Homo sapiens: one gene and its partner. The protein of the gene in region 2 interacts with the protein of the main gene of each other region in a biochemical or structural test. Each region holds a gene or a part of one and is shown on either strand. Other genes may lie near its edges.

What was found. The genes of interacting proteins can lie anywhere in the genome.
Region 1: the proteins of DNAAF5 (region 2) and PFKL form a complex in vitro, tested with the Homo sapiens proteins (one study listed by BioGRID).

The regions. Positions count from the first base shown.
Region 1 is NC_000021.9:44,316,512-44,324,218, reverse strand, and holds part of PFKL (ATP-dependent 6-phosphofructokinase, liver type), read right to left. Parts: coding exon 7,695-7,707; intron 5,750-7,694; coding exon 5,624-5,749; intron 4,869-5,623; coding exon 4,804-4,868; intron 4,136-4,803; coding exon 4,072-4,135; intron 2,491-4,071; coding exon 2,344-2,490; intron 2,087-2,343; coding exon 2,016-2,086; intron 1,258-2,015; coding exon 1,170-1,257; intron 454-1,169; coding exon 301-453; intron 1-300. UniProt on the Homo sapiens protein: Catalyzes the phosphorylation of D-fructose 6-phosphate to fructose 1,6-bisphosphate by ATP, the first committing step of glycolysis.
Region 2 is NC_000007.14:757,366-765,072, forward strand, and holds part of DNAAF5 (dynein axonemal assembly factor 5), read left to right. Parts: intron 1-4,387; coding exon 4,388-4,531; intron 4,532-6,440; coding exon 6,441-6,609; intron 6,610-7,707. UniProt on the Homo sapiens protein: Cytoplasmic protein involved in the delivery of the dynein machinery to the motile cilium.

The sequences.
Region 1 (7,707 bases), on a different chromosome or scaffold from region 2:
TGGACAGAGGCCAGGCGCTGCTCTTAGACTACCCAGCACTGGGGCGCAGGGACATTCCCGCCTCAGTCTCCCCATCTGAGCTCATCACAGTAGCGAGGAACAACGCAGGGCCCCCCTGGACCTGGAAGTGGCTATGGCAGGGAGCTGAGCCCCTTCACCCGGGCCTGTGCCCCACAAACCCCAACCCTGGCAGCCCTCCCAGGTGCTCACCACACACTATCCCCTCCAGCAGCCTCCGTAGGCTCAGCCCCACCCCACAAGGGCCTGGGCATGGCAGGCCGGTGTCCAGGAGCCCCGTACCTCCATGGCGGCATTTACAGCAGTGTCGGAGCCCAGGCTGAAGTCGGTGCCAGGGACGTTGTTGCTGATGGTGGCTGGGATGACACACATGACGATGCAGAGCTCCTCGTAGCGCCCGCGAGCCTCCACCAGCTGCAGCACCCCTTCATAGGCCTGCAGCAGTAGGGACGGGGCAGGTCAAGGGCAGCACCGAGGCCAGGGTGGGCCGGGGACAGGCTCTGCCGGCGGCCGCCCAGCCCTGCTCCCTGCTGACCTGTCATGTGCCCCGTGCTGGACGCCAGGACCCACCTGCTCAATCCCCTGGGGCTGGGCCAGGCAGTCAGCCTGGTGTCATCTCAGGATGCCTACCAGGGAAACTGGACTCTAAGGAGGGTCAGGAGTCTCCTCCAACCCACTCTGACCCCAGATCCACTCCATGGAGGGCAAGGGGGAAGGGCTGTCATTTATTCATTATTTAGTGACAGCTTGCCCAGTGCCAGGACACCACGTTCAGCGATGCCGTCCAGCACCTACACCTCTGCCTCCTCCGCCTCCCTTCTTTCTCGTCCTCCAGCTTCCGAGTCCCCTTCCTCCCCTGCCCCTCCCCAGCACTGGGGTTAATCGGAACCTTGTGAAGCTTTCCGGAGAAAGTAAAGAACCCTCCCGAGCCCACACACAGCACTTAAAACCCCAACCCTCTCGGCCCCTGCATCAGCCCAGCTGGCACACGGGTGCCCTCCCGAGCCCACACACAGCACTTAAAACCCCGACCCTCTCGGCCCCTGCATCGGCCCAGCCAGCACACGGGTTTTCAGGATGGGCCCCCTCGGCGGGAGGACACCTTGGGTCTCCTGTGCCCTGGGGCTTTTTCGTCCGTGGGCAGCTCTCACCTCAAACCCACCGACCACCAGCAGGGCGTGAATACCATAGATGCGGATGTTCTCCACAATGGACTCCAGCTGGCCCTTGGGCAGGGTCCTGCAGTCAAAGACACATCCGCATGAACACGCAGCACCCGGGGACGCGTGTCCAGATTGCATCTGATCACAGAAAGGCATTGCCTTGGCCGTTCCCCGAGCCAGTCAGCAGTCGCTGCAATGCCCGGGATGTGGCGCTGTGGCTCCACACGGAGAGGGACACACAGGCCCAGCGTGAGCCGCCTGGGCACCACTCAGCATCACCAGGCACCGGCCAGGCAACCGAGTGAACCCCCCACCCCGCTGGGCTCCCCGTGGGAACCCCTTCCTGCCCGAGGCTTTCTCGCCCAACACTCAGCGGCAGGAGCGGATGCTTCCTCTGGCCCTTGCAGCCACTCAGTGGCTCAGGACTCAGCAACTTCCCCTGTAGTCACACAGGGGGACTGTGCCCACCCCATGCCCACAGAAGGGTCTCAGGCCCTGGGACAAAAGCCATCAGACAGGCCCATAGCCTCAGCCAGAGTGCTGACAGTGCAGGCTGCCTGGCCTGGCCAGGCAGGGACAGACGCTCGCCAGCTTCCTTGCCACGGAGAGCCCACCATGGGCATGGGGCCGCCAGAGCAGCCTGCCCTACACAGCGGAGCTCAGGCCAGGAAGCCCCAGGCAGGAGGCGTGAAGCCTGCTCTGGGCAGACCACCAGCAGGAAGAGGGGCCGAGCCCAGGGCCCCGGGCTGGGTTCCCCTTGCCGCCCCCACCTGCAGGGCCTGGATACTGCGCCCTGGCCCTCCTGCCCCCAGGTACCCGCAGCAGGCAGCTCACCTCTTGGTCCCCAGCATGGAGCCACCACGCCCCAACCAGCCGGCCACGTCGTGCCAGCCTACTTCTTGCACCTGCCAGGAGGAGATGCAGCTTCAGGGGCCAGCCTGAGCCTCTGGCCAATTCCCCCCAGGGGTGGGCCTGTGCCCGGGGGCCAGCCAGTGTTGGGCATCACGCTGCAGGCAGAGCTGAGTACCCAGGCCCGGGTGGGCACCGACACGCGGACCCAGGTCTCAGCCTCCACCTCCAGCAGCCGGCCTTCCACAGGAAATGCCCCAAGTGTGCACACAGAAGGCCCAAGTCCTCACTTGTTTGCCCCGGCCGGACCCACCTGACCCTTGGCTAGGCCTTCGAAGCCATCGTGCACCACGTATACTGTGTGTCCATGGGAGATGCCGGTCCGCACCGCCGAGCGCACGGCCGCATTCATGCCAGCCGCCGGGGCCCCCACATTCAGGATGGCCAGGGAGAAGTTAGACTTCAGAGAGAAGGGGAGATGAGCGTGAGGCACAGCCGGGGAGGGGACCCCCAACCTGCACAGGAGGTCAGCAGGCCGGCAGGTTCTGGAAAAAGGGGCCAGGCCCTGCCAGCAGCCTGGACGCTGCCCAGCACACCGCCCAACTGCCCTGGGAATACGGTATCTGTTCTAATTCCAGAAGATTCTGGTGAAGACCAAAAGAGACACGGTGCAAGCCTGGCCCCCTGGCACGCAGGCAACAGAGGAGGCAGAAGGGGCGAGCACTGTTGTGAAGCCAGGCTTGCGGGCGGGAACACAGGTCAGTGCCCACACAAGGGGCTGGCAGCGGGCGGGAGGGTGGGGGGTGCACAGCCACGAGTAAGGAAGGGGCCCTGGCTATCCTGTTTTCTAGTAGCCACGTTAAGGGAAGGGAAAAGACATGGAGACAGTCCCATCAGGACTACAGTTAATTTAACCTGATGGACCCAAAACCCCACCACATCCATGTGAATCCAGTGACGGCCGCCACCACCTCCCCTCCACCCACCGTGCTGAGGCTCTGAACCTGGCGTGCACCTGTCACGTGCAGCACATCCCACTTGGCAGCAGCCACACCCAAGGGCTCCATAGCCACATGGCCCCACTGGGTCCTGGTACGAGCCAGCCCTGCTGCCCACAAAGCCAGTCACGCCCCTGCCAGGTTCTGGGTTCGTGGAGACCAGGTTGCCCCACCACGGAGGGTAGAGCCCGCTGACTAGCTCTGGGGATAAGCAGGAGGCTGGAGCAGCAGGGACACCCAAAGATGTCCATGGAAGGGAGGACCAGACTCAGGCTGGGCCACGCTGTCTGCCCCGGCCTGCAGCTCCGGCTGTGGCTCAAGGGGCTTGGGAGCCAGGACCTCACTGGCCGTGACTCTCTCTACAGGACCCTCGTCCCCCAGGACTTTAGAAACAAGCCATTTCATCCTTATTTTGGAGAGATCCCATTTCCTGAGGTTTTCAGCTGTTTGGGAACATTTTATTTTCAGAGTTTCACTCTTGCCGCCCGGGCTGGAGTGCAATGGCACGATCTCGGCTCACTGCACCCTCCACCTCCCAAGTTCAAGCTATTCTCCTGCCTCAGCCTCCTGAGTAGCTGTGATTACAGGCATGTGCCACCACCACGCCCAGCTAATTTTTGTATTTTTAGTAGAGACGGAGTTTCACCATGTTGGCCAGGCTGGTCTCGAACTCCTGACCTCAGGTGAACTGGCCACCTCAGCCTTCCAAAGTGCTGGGATTACAGGTGTGAGCCTGGCCCCGGGGGACATTTTCTACACAATGGCTTCTCCTCTCCTGAGTTAAGCCTGTGGCCTGACTTCATTTCCATCCACCACTGAGAAGCAACAGCCAGCCCTGCAGCCAGGGTCCCAGCACCCGGGACCTGCCAGCCACAGTGGTGCCTGAGCCCAGGCAGAGGTCAGGCCCACCCTCCCAGCTCACAGCTCGGACCCCAGCAGGAGGGAAGGTGGGGGCAGGCAGGCCCAGCCACGGGGCCAGCGTGAAGAGGCTGCAGAATAACTGAGCCCGTTCCTCCCTCTGTGGGCGCCGCTCCCTGCCTCACCTTCTCCTTGGGGGGCTTCTGGTGGGCGAGGAGCTTGTAAATGTTCCAGTTGTTCTCGAAGCTCCTGGAAGGGATTCGGGTCACACCATGCACAGCCCTGCAGCGCCACGGCGTACAGCCACAGCGCAGCCGTGACAGAGCCCAGGAGGCTGGTCACAGGCACACGGCCCGATGGAAGCTCAGCCATGAGGCAGCAGACACCGCGCATGCCAGGCAGGGCACCTTCCACAGAAGGTGCGAGACCCCCAACACAACACGAGGCCACGCCAGCCCGTGCAGCAAAGCACGTGGCCGGCATCCAGCTCAAGGGAGGGTTGGCCACCTTGGTAGCGGGTGGAGGCACGCATGGGAACCCAGACGTCCAATCCAGCCTGACCCGGCCGCCAGGACGCCTGCAGGGGGGTGGTACCCACACCCAACATCTGCCAGCCTTCCCAGCCCCCGCGGGGCCACCCCATGTCCTGGGCTTGTATCCACAGCTTCTCATCCCCTCGCCATGCCCAGATCCCTGTGCACTGGGCCCTGCCCGTGCCACCGCCCAGGGTCTCCTGTGGTACCACACCTCCCAGCCCGCCTCCTGTACCACCCGCAGGCCCCTTCCTCCCTCGATCTTCAGACGCGGTGCCTAGAAGGATGACCCAGGCCAGGCGTGCATAGCGCCACTGCAGCACATGCTGCCTGGCACCGGGACCCAGCCATGTAAGAGTGCAGGGGTCTGCTGAGGGGGCTTACCCACCACGGAGCTGGGTGGCCTCGTCAAACCTCTTGTCATCCATGGCTTTCTGCACTTCCTTGGTCTTAAGGAAGAGAAACAGAACACAGACTATGGAGAGCCTGGCCCGCACACCCATGGCTACTGCCCTGTCTGGTGGGCCTGACGAGGGCAGATCTGGCCGGCATCTCCTGACCCTGGCCCAGGCCTGGCAGCCTCTCCCTAGGAACAGCGGTCACCACCAAGGCCAGCTCTTCTGGGGCTGGCTGAGACCAGGAGGCCCTACCCTGCCCCCAGCTGCCCTCCTCACCTCTCAGCAGCTCCAGCTCCAGGCAGGGCACTCTGCCCCAGTTGCAGGCCTCCAAACCCACCGAGCCAGGGCTGGACCAGCCCCCACACCCGGCCCCCTCGCCTCTGCCTTCCCCGTACCTCCTCTCCTGGGGTCCCTGCTCCAGCCACCCCAGTGTTCCCCATCACCTGCCTGAGCTCCTCCCAGGGCTCTGCTCTGATCACTGGCCCCTCCTCCTCCGTCCCATCGTAACCCCAACTCCCACCACTGCCTACAGAAGCTCAGTGGCCGTGGACCCCTGTGACTTCCCATGCTCACCAGGCTCCCTGCAGCTCCGACACACCTCCTGGGGAACGTCCCAGGTCCCACGTCCCACCCAGGGATGTGCTCACATCCCTCCCCTCCCTGGAGACCTGGGATGCCCTGGGCCAGCCACGAGGCCCTGCCCTCCGGTGCTCACAGTGCTGGGGCCCCCAGAGAGCAGTGGGGCCTGTGAGTGGGGACTGGGGAGAGGGGCCAGGCGGTTCTGATGGGGGGGGCCCAGGGCTTACCATCTGCACGCACTCCATGAGGGGCAGCCGCACTGACTGGTTCCCCGAGAGGGTGACCACGCAGGCCGGCGTGTCAGGCGTGGCTTCCAGCAGCGCCATCACCGCCTCCATGCCCATCTTGCTGCTCTGTGGGGAAGGGTTCAGGCTGGCACACCCACTTGGTCCCTCTACCCCAAGCCACATGCCCATCCTCTGTAGATGTGCAAACCCCAGCTTCCAGAGCCCCCCACGCTGACGGAAGCTTCCAGAACAGGTGGCATCAGAGATGGAAACGTGTCTGACCAGCATTCACGACGGCACACCAGACACCATTTCACAGAGTCCTCGCTGCCCTGCTGGAAGGCCCAGCCTGCACTGCTGGCTGCAGGGTGCCATGCAATGCGACCCACCCACCGTCGCTCGCTGCCATCGCTAGGCGCGCAAGGCAAGGGCGGGAGCCAGGTCCCCAGGGCCCCATCCGCTGCGATGGATCCTCCCGTGGAGGCCCTCATGTCGTGACTTCCCTGGTGTGTGTCCGCACCGGCCAAAGGGCTGGGCAGAGGACACATCCAGGAGCTGCCCCCCAGGGACACACTGCAAAGGCAGGCCCCAGCCCCACCCCGGGAACCGGCCACAGTGGACAAGAAAGCCAGGCCTGCGGTTGCCGTGGCCGTCCCATGACCACCAGTGGCCAGCCCTGTAGAAGCCCAGCAGCTGGACCCCCGGGGCCACAGACAGCCCTCCGTGTTCCACACAGGTTTTTTCATCTTGCAAGTGAGGCACAGGCGGCACCTTATTCTGGGCAGTCTCTCCAGGACGCTGTTTAGGGAGCAGCCTCGGAGACACCCCCCATGCAGGATGAGGCTCCTTGGAAAAGTGCAGGTTACCACTGCACGTGCTAGGGTCCCCTGGCCCCTTCGCAGCACCCAGTGGGAATACGGGCTCAGGGAGCACAAGAATGCTGACGCTCTGGGTGACAGCCGCGGCTAGGGGCGATCAACTGTCCTTTGTTTCACACCCGGCATCAGGCATCCAAGACACTGGCTGGAAAACCCAGCAGCCTGCAGGCTGGGAGTGCATGGCTGGCCCGGTCACAGCAGCGGCATTTCCATCACCCCAGGCTCAGCAGCGGCTGGCTTGCCCTGATGTCCCCGGCCCCTCAAGAGGCTCTTCAGAGTGAGCCTGAGGCCTCACAGAGGGGACAGCAGCTGCCTGGCTAGGTCGGCGGGGCCCCTCTCTGAGGAAGCCTCCCCTCTATAGAGTGGCCCTCGTCCAGCTGTGTGGGTTCCCTGGGAATGCTCGGCTCAGCACACGAGTCACAGGGCCAGGTGCAGTCACAGGGCTGGGCGCAGTCACCTGGTCTCCCTCAGCACAAGTCCCACCTGTCTGACAGTCTCTGGCCCTGCCTGAGAGGGTGACCACCCTCATACACAGGCATTTTGCCTACCATGGTGCCTTCCTGGCCCCAGACCCACTCCATTTGGCTCCAACTTCATTCCCATTTTGCAGAGGACAAAGTGAGACCCAGCGGTGATCAGGACCAAGGACGGCGAGGCCAGGCCAGACCCCGAATGCTCCCTCCCAGCACCAGCCTCCCAGACTGTGACGCCACAGGCGCCATGGGCACCACCCTCTGCCCACCCAGCCCCTCTCCCAGGGCCTGCCCCTGGCCCTGACTGCTGCCACGTTGGGCTGGCAGAGGGTGGGGGTCAGAACAGCCAGGAGGCACAGGCTGGTGGGGGGCCTCCCATGGTCCCCAGGTCTGAGTTCCCTATACCTGCAGGGGAACGGAGAAGCCAGGCCTCAGTCTCCCCCAGGAGGAGCAACAGCTTGAGGGAACACCCACACACACCCACACTGACACACACCCACACACACTGCCACACACACCCACACGGACCAGACACACACAGACACACCCACAAGGACCACGCGTCCCCCACACATACACCCCCACACACAGACACGGACACTCACCCACAGCCACATGGACACAGTGCACGTGCCATGCTCGCGTGCACACTGCCCACACCCACACCCACACACCACGCTTACCCACGCACGTACGCAGGGCAGGGTGATGGCCACTTACCAGGATCCGGTCG
Region 2 (7,707 bases):
TGGCCCATGCTGCTGGGGGTAGATGTGGGGTCCACGTCATCCCACCCCTGAGGAGCGTGGTCGCACGTCCACCATCCCATCCAGTCCCCAGGGTACCTGCACAGATCGCACGTCCTCAGGGGGCACTGACAGCCTGTTCCCCATCAGCCCTGCCTGGCGTTCCGATCTGTGCTTCTCACAGCCCAGCTGAGGATTTGCCAGAGACATTTGTTTAATTTTAAATTGAGCAGCAAATCCTTGAGCTCAGAAGCTGGAACAGCCTGGGTAGTTGGGCTCAATTGTTTGGAATAATCCATAGTTGTATTCCATGGAAGAAGAGGTGATGGCTTTGCTTTCATTTGAAGGTGAGTGGTCCCTGTCAGTGTGTGTGTTGGACTCAGCACCCCAGATATTTCTGGGACACAGGGCTGCCCCCACCAGGCGGCCGTGCCATGCAGGGCGGGCCTCAGCTCACCCCTGGAGGCACTTGCTCCGGCTCGATCGTTTCCGGCGGCTTCTATGGCCCCAAAGCTGGCCTGGGGCACGGGGACTTGCCACTGTGCTCTCAGCCCGGCCTGTCCTGTGTCAGGCTCCCTCTCCGTCCTCAGAACGAGAGGTGGGGCTGTTGACAGTCATTTTTGTAAACTGTTTTAAGAAACCTGTAAGCAGTTCCTGGAATACATAGAGGGAAGGAAACGGAGCTGGGGTAAGGAAGGGAGCGGGGGAGGGGCCCGGGCCGCGTGCTCATGGCATTTCAGCCATGCTTCAGCTTTTCCCAAAACCCGTTTTTAACACATCATCGAATGTGTGTCAGTTCTCCACTTTCCTTCACCCACGAGGGGTTATGAGGATGCCTTTGATTTCTGTATACAGATTTGCAAGCCAGAAGCATTTTTTCCTAGAAGGGCATAACTTGAAAATGTGCACAGGTGCCTAAATCCTTATCTCACAAACTTTATAGCAAAGAAAGTGTAGTTTTCACATCTCCATGTTGGTTACAGGAAAACGGAATTGTGTCATCCCACAGTTGTGCATTTGGCTCCCCATCTTCCAGTTTTATCGAGGAAAAATTTAATCACAATCTTTCAAACAGAGACGTCTTTCTGACAAAGTCCAGTCACACGGGACCCCTGGGAAGCCAGCCTCAACCTTCCAGGCTGCGAACGTGTGTCGGCCCTTTGGCCAAGGAGCCAGTCACAGTGAAAACCCAAGACGTACATTTCACTCCTTTCTTGTTTTTATTTTTTTGTTTTAGGTTGATCCTCCCACCTCAGCCTCCTGAGTCACTGGGACTACAGGTGTGCACCACCACACCTGGGTAATTTTTTTTTATTTATTTTTATTTATTTACTTTTTGGGACAGAGTCTTGCTCTGTCACCCAGGCTAGAATGCAGTGGCGCAATCTTGGCTCACTGCAGCCTCCGCCTCCCAGGTTCAAGCGATTCTCCTGCCTCAGCCTCCCAAGTAGCTGGGATTACAGGCATGCACCACCACACCCGGCTAATTTTTGTGTTTTTAGTAGAGACGGGGTTTCTCCATGTTGGCCAGGCTGGTCTTGAACTCCTGACTTCAAGTGATCAGCCCACCTCGGCCTCCCAAAGTGCTGGGATTACAGGTGTGAGCCACCGCACCTGGCCCCATTTTACTCCTTAACAGACTTAAATTTTTGGCAAGAAAGGGTGAAGGTACTCAGGTCTCAGTCAGAATCAGGCCCGTGGTTCTGTGCTCTTCCCACGCCCCTGTGCTCTTCCCGCGGCCGGCCGGGCTTTGTGTCATGTCATTTGGGAAGTCGATTATGTTTCCCACAGCTATTCTCCAGTAGCTATGAGAACAGGTTGAAAATGTCTTTCAAGAACAAACCGAAATTGTTTTAAAAGCTCGTGTTTAAACAGAGAAGTCCGTGTAAATGTATTCTAAACTGAGCCTGGCTTCACTCCCTGCCCTGGGGTTCACAGGAAATCTGGCTTTAGCAGTAGGTACTTCCAGGTGTCTCGGGCCCAGTAGGTCCCCTAGAGCTCGACAGACGGGAACTGGAGTCTCCTGGGAAGGAGTTTAGGACAGGTGTCTAGAGTGAGGAAATGGGTAACTCACCGATTTGCTTCTCACACAGGGAAGCCAGCAGTTGTGGGATGCCATTGCCATTGTTGAAATAGGAGTCTCTTGTGCTTTTCTGAATTAAAAACCTTTGCAGTCTTAGATAACATTGTTTCAGAAAACAATGTTTGAAATAGTATTTCAAAAAATACTGAGAATTATTTCCTGCTGTATCTTTTTTCTTTTTCGTTCTGTGTGTGTGCGTTGTATGTAGGCAGACACTGAAAATTGTCTGGTCAAATATAGAGAAATCTATAAATGTGAAGTCTTGTCACTTCCTCAGAGACGGTGCTGCGTTCGTGGCAGGAGGGTGGTGCTTGCTGCAAAGGATGCCTGATTCCCTGTTTGTTCCTGTGCTTGGAGGTGTGGTCAGCCAGGAGGGGCTGTGTCTTCTAAACGCACCTGCCTTTTGATTTTAACCGAAAAGATGATCGCTCCTGAAATGTACATGACAGGTCATTCTAGAAACTAGCCAGATATTGTCCTCAGAAGTCAGCCAGTTAGTACAGGCCTTAGAGAAATTGGGCTGTGGGAAAAATCAGGAATGGAATAAAAACAAATCTGTGGCTTCTGTGGGAGTTGGGGCCACGACAGGGCCACACGGCTCCTCCAGCTCCGAGGGAGACGGGGCCGCGCGGCTCCTCCAGCTCTGAGGGAGACGGGGCCGCGCGGCTCCTCCAGCTCCGAGGGAGATGGAGCCATGCAGCTCTGTGTCTTCTGTGGGTCAGGGCGGGGCCGGGGTGCAAGGACAGAACGCTGCTGTAGTACAGTGGGAGTGTTTTGTTTAGTCTTCCATGATTTACGTCAGTGGGGAATGAGGCTTAGAGTTTTAGAGCTGATTAGGAAATTTAGAACCAACCCATTGTCTAGCCAAATAATTACCAAACTTCTTTGAACTTGCACCCCCATTAGTAAAAACAGTTTTTAAGCATAGGCCTCCAATATATGTACACTGTTGATAAATCACGTGTTTAAATTACATGGCCACGGTCCTGACTCACTCTGTACTTTATGAAACATACATAAAATAGACATTAGAGGGACGTTATAAGAAGTAAATACAGGCCAGGCGTGGTGGTTCTTATCTATGATCCCAGCACTTTGAGAGGCCACGGCAGGAGGATCACTTAAGGCTAGGAGTTTGAGACTGCAGTTAGCCACGATTGCACCACTGCACTCCAGCCTGGGCGACAGAGCAAGACCCTGTCTCTAAAAAATAAGTTAAAATTTATTTAGAAAGAAGTAAGCACACGCAAAGCCTTAGGAATTCTTGGGTCCAGCACACGCCTGCTGTGTTGCGGGCTTCAGAGCCTGGCTGATTCACAGTGGATGAGGCTGGAGCCGGGAGGGGAAGCCATTCATCCAGCGCAGCCGTAGGTGCAGAGCTGAGACTCCACCTCCCCGTCAATCAGTAAACATGTTAAGCCATAGAATTTTATTTGTCTTAAAACTTGGTGTTATAGAAAAGCTCAAAAATGCACAGAAGAGGGGCAGGCAGCAGAGCGACTGCCAGCTTCAGCGCTGACCAGCCCTTGGCATGCGTGTTCTGCCTGCCTGGGGCCACTTTTCTTTTTAACTTTGGAGGGCGGGGAGAACTTGGGCATGTTGTAAAGCAGATAATGCAGTGCGCCGTCATTTCCCTCACAGGTGCCGTGTGCATCACTAACGCAGCTTCTCCACCACATAGCTCAAGTGCCTGTTCACATTTCACAAAATAAGCACAGATTCCTTAGCTCCCAGTCTGTGTTCAGTTTTCCCATCAACAAGCACGCCCTTTTATGGTTGACATGCCGGCACCCTACCTCCAGCGCCTGGGGGCTCTCCCTGCAAGGGCTCTCCCATGGCTGCTGCCCCTCGTGAGCCGTAGACTAGGAGCCCCGGGCGGGCTCTGTCGGCCCTGACACTGGGGCCGGAGCGGGAGCCCTGTATTAGTCCATTCTCATGTCGCTAATAAAGATCTACCACAGACTGGGTAATTTATAAAGAAAAAGAGGCTTAATGGACTCAAAGTTCCACATGGCTGTGCAGGCCTCACCATCATGGTGGAAGGCAAAGGAGGAGCAAAGTCACGTCTTACGTGGCGGCAGGCGAGAGAGTGTGCAGGGGAACTGCCCTTTATACTAACATCAGATCTCGTGAGACTTAATATCAAGAGAACAGCACGGGAAAGACCCACCCCCATGATTCAGTTCCCTCCCACAGGGTCCCTCCCAGGATACGTGGGGATTATGGGAGCTACAGTTCAAGATGGGATTCGGGTGGGGACACGACCAAATTGTACCAAGCTCTGACGGTGCTGCCGGTCTCTTCCAGGACCTCTACCTGGAGCGCCTGCTGCTGTGTGTGCAGGCTCTGGTGTCTGTGTGTCATGAGGACTGTGGCGTGGCCAGCCTGCAGCTCTTGGACGTGCTGCTGACAATAGTGGCCCTCGCAGGTGCTACCGGCCTGAGGGACAAGGTAAGGCTGACAGTGGTGGCTGCTGCTTGACCTAGCGGAGCTCACAGCTGGAAGGCATCTCTAAGTGAGGTGAACTGTCTCCTATGCATCCCCTCTGTGCTTGACCAGCAAAGACCAGGGATTGAGAACCTTGCGGGTGAGTCCCCGGGCAACGGCCTTCGGGGCAGCTCTCCAGCTGCCAGTGTATTCTGGCATCAGGGAGTGGAGACAGCTGTTTAATGTTAGGGTCTTCAGCAAAGAAGCAAACAAGAAATAAGACGTAACCTTTAAACCTGCGCACTTGAGTAGGGTTTAATAGTGCACATGTCGCTGGGCGTGGCATCTCACGCCTGTAATCCCAGCACTTTGGGAGGCCGAGGTGGGCGGATCACCTGAGGTCAGGAGTTTGAGACCAGCCTGACCAACATGGTGAAACCCCGTCTCTACTAAAAATACAAAAAATTAGCCAGGCGTGTTGGCATGTGCCTGTAGTCCCAGCTACTCAGGAGGCTGAGGCAGGAAAATTGCTTGAACCAGGGAAGCAGAGGTTGCAGTGAGCCAAGATCGTGCCACTGCACTCCAGCCTGGGCTGAGCAACAGAGCGAGACTCCGTCCAAAAAAAAAAAAAAGTGCATGTGCATGTGTGACTGAGTCGAGAGAAGATACCGTGATTTCCCGCTCTCATTGCAGCACAGCGTTCAGAAGTACTTCTCGCCCATGGGCTCCCTGTTTATGCCCAAAAATCATCTTTTTTCTTCAGTGGAGTCTCGCTCTGTCACCCAGGCTGGAGTGCAGTGGCGCGATCTCGGCTCACTGCAACTTCTGCCTCCCAGGTTCAAGTGATTCTCCTGCCTCAGCCTCCTGAGTAGCCGGGATTACAGGCGCCCACCACCATACCCGGCTAATTTTTATATTTTTAGTAGAGACAAGGTTTTGCCACGTTGGCCAGGTTGGTCTCAAGCTCCTGACTGCAGGTGATCCACCTGCCTCAGCCTCCCAAAGGGCTGGGATCATAGGCATGAGCCACCGCACCTGGCCATTATGCCCAAAAATCTTTTAACCCCAACCTTCTAATGGGCTTCTAGGGCCCCTGGAGGCCCCAGTATCTGTCTGCCTCTCTGGAAGCTGAGACTTAGTTCCTCCTCCCATTCTGTCTCTGTGGACAGCCCCTCTCGGCAGATTCTCTCTCTGGGAGATTTACGGCCTGAATGTACTATGGGGAACCTGGTGTGGAGGAGGCTGCTGCCCTCCCCTTCCTTCTTGGGGCCTCTAAAAACAAGCTTCCCAAGGGGCGTGTGTCTCAGCAGATGCTGTCACTGTTAGGGCCTGAGGTACCAGCAAAAGCAAAGTCTTTGCCTGCTGGTCATGGGGGACGAAGCCAGGTAGCCCCAGATTCAGACTCCAGGCTTGGGGCAATGGCCACCGGGGAGCCTCAGCCCTTCCTCTGTTCCTAAGCCCCCAAGGAGAGCAGCCAGCTAAAAGTAAAAGGTGGCCAAGGTTATCATCTCTGTCTGCCCAGTTACTTTTACCTGGAGGTCTGGTCTGCTGGGCTTAACTCTTTAAGCCACTTGCCCGCCCCTCTCTGCTCCTCACCACCTCAGAGGAGCCCTGCCTGCCCAGGCGGACACCACGTCCGTGTAAGCCCCAGGACCACCTGTGCTGTGTGCATCCCAGTGTGCACAGTGCCTGCTTCATGATTCGCTGCAGAGACGGCGTTGGTGTGAACGGGATCAGGGTCTCGCCCTGCACCCGCGGCTCTCGCTCTCCTGCACCCTGGGCGGGGCTCCCTGTGGCAGCCTCCCTCCCGATTATCCTGGCAGGCCCGGCCTGTGTGGTTCTTACGCGTGAGGGGGATAGTGAGTCCCAGCAGGCAGGCAGGCTTGAGCCCTGAGTGTTGGAATTGTCTCAGTCTCTGACTTGTAACCTCCAGGCACAGGAGACGATGGACTCACTGGCCATGGTGGAGGGTGTCAGCAGCTGCCAGGACCTCTACCGCAAGCACATTGGTCCCCTCCTGGAGCGGGTGACCGCGTCGCACCTTGACTGGACCGCACACTCGCCGGAGCTCCTGCAGTTCAGTGTCATCGTCGCACAGTCAGGTGAGCCGTCCCGACAGCTGGCGTGCCGTGCCTGGCCCCACTCAGGCTACACACCTGCTCCCCCAGGTGCTCAGCAGGTACCAGCGCCGACCAGCTGAGCTGTGGTTCACTGAAGCGTGTTGTTAAAAGTACCCAATAGTCACTCTTGCCTGGGGAGAAGCAGCATTTTAAGGAGCATCGCATTGAAGACTGTGGGACGCAGCTCTTCCACTTGGCCCGGGCACACGCTTTCATGTGAAACCTTCAAAGTGTGCTTTTCCGTGGCCTGTTTTGTAGCCTGGCTTCTTAAATACGTCTGGATTTTGTTGCAGAATCTAGATGTCTAGCCGCATGGGTGCTGTGTGTGTGACATGGGGGCCTTAGCCCCAGCCCCTCTGAGACCAGCATTTCTGTGGTTCTCTTTGAGCCTGCGGATCAGCCACTTTTCCTGGGATGGACAGTGTGGCCCAGTGGGGCTTCAGCGCGGGGCAAGATCCACTGCAGAACCCTAAGGAGACGTCCGCTCAGCAGCCATAGTGCCTTGGGACACACGGCCCGCGCTGCTCCACGGGCCGTGAACTCGCCGCGGTAGCTCTTCCTCGTTTGCCTCCCCGGCCCTCCCGCTCCCGCCTGCAGCTCCGAGTGCCCCCGCCTCCTGTTGGATGTGTGCACCAGGGTGGTCGTGCTCTGCATCTGAGGATGCTAAGATCGTTCTTACACAATCTCTGTGCCTGGTAGGGACTCACCTTTTTTTTCCTGAGACTTGGAAAAATACCCAAAATTGTTCTTTGTCAGTTGCATTCAAAACTGTTTCCAAATTAGAAAAGAAAATACTGGCTGGGCGTGGTGGCTCACGCCTGTAATCCCAGCACTTTGGGAGGCTGAAGTGGGAGGATCACTTGAGCTCAGGAGTTCGAGACCAGCCTGGCCAACACGGCAAGAGCTCATCTCTACAAAAAGATGAAAAAAACCGCACGTGCACCTCTGAATCTAAAATTTAAAAATAAATAAAATACAGTTAGCCAGGCGTGGTGGTGTGCGCCTGTGGCCCCAGCTACTCAGGAAGCTGAAGCGGGAGGATCCCTGGAGCCCAGGAGTTCGAAGCTTCAGTGAGCTGTG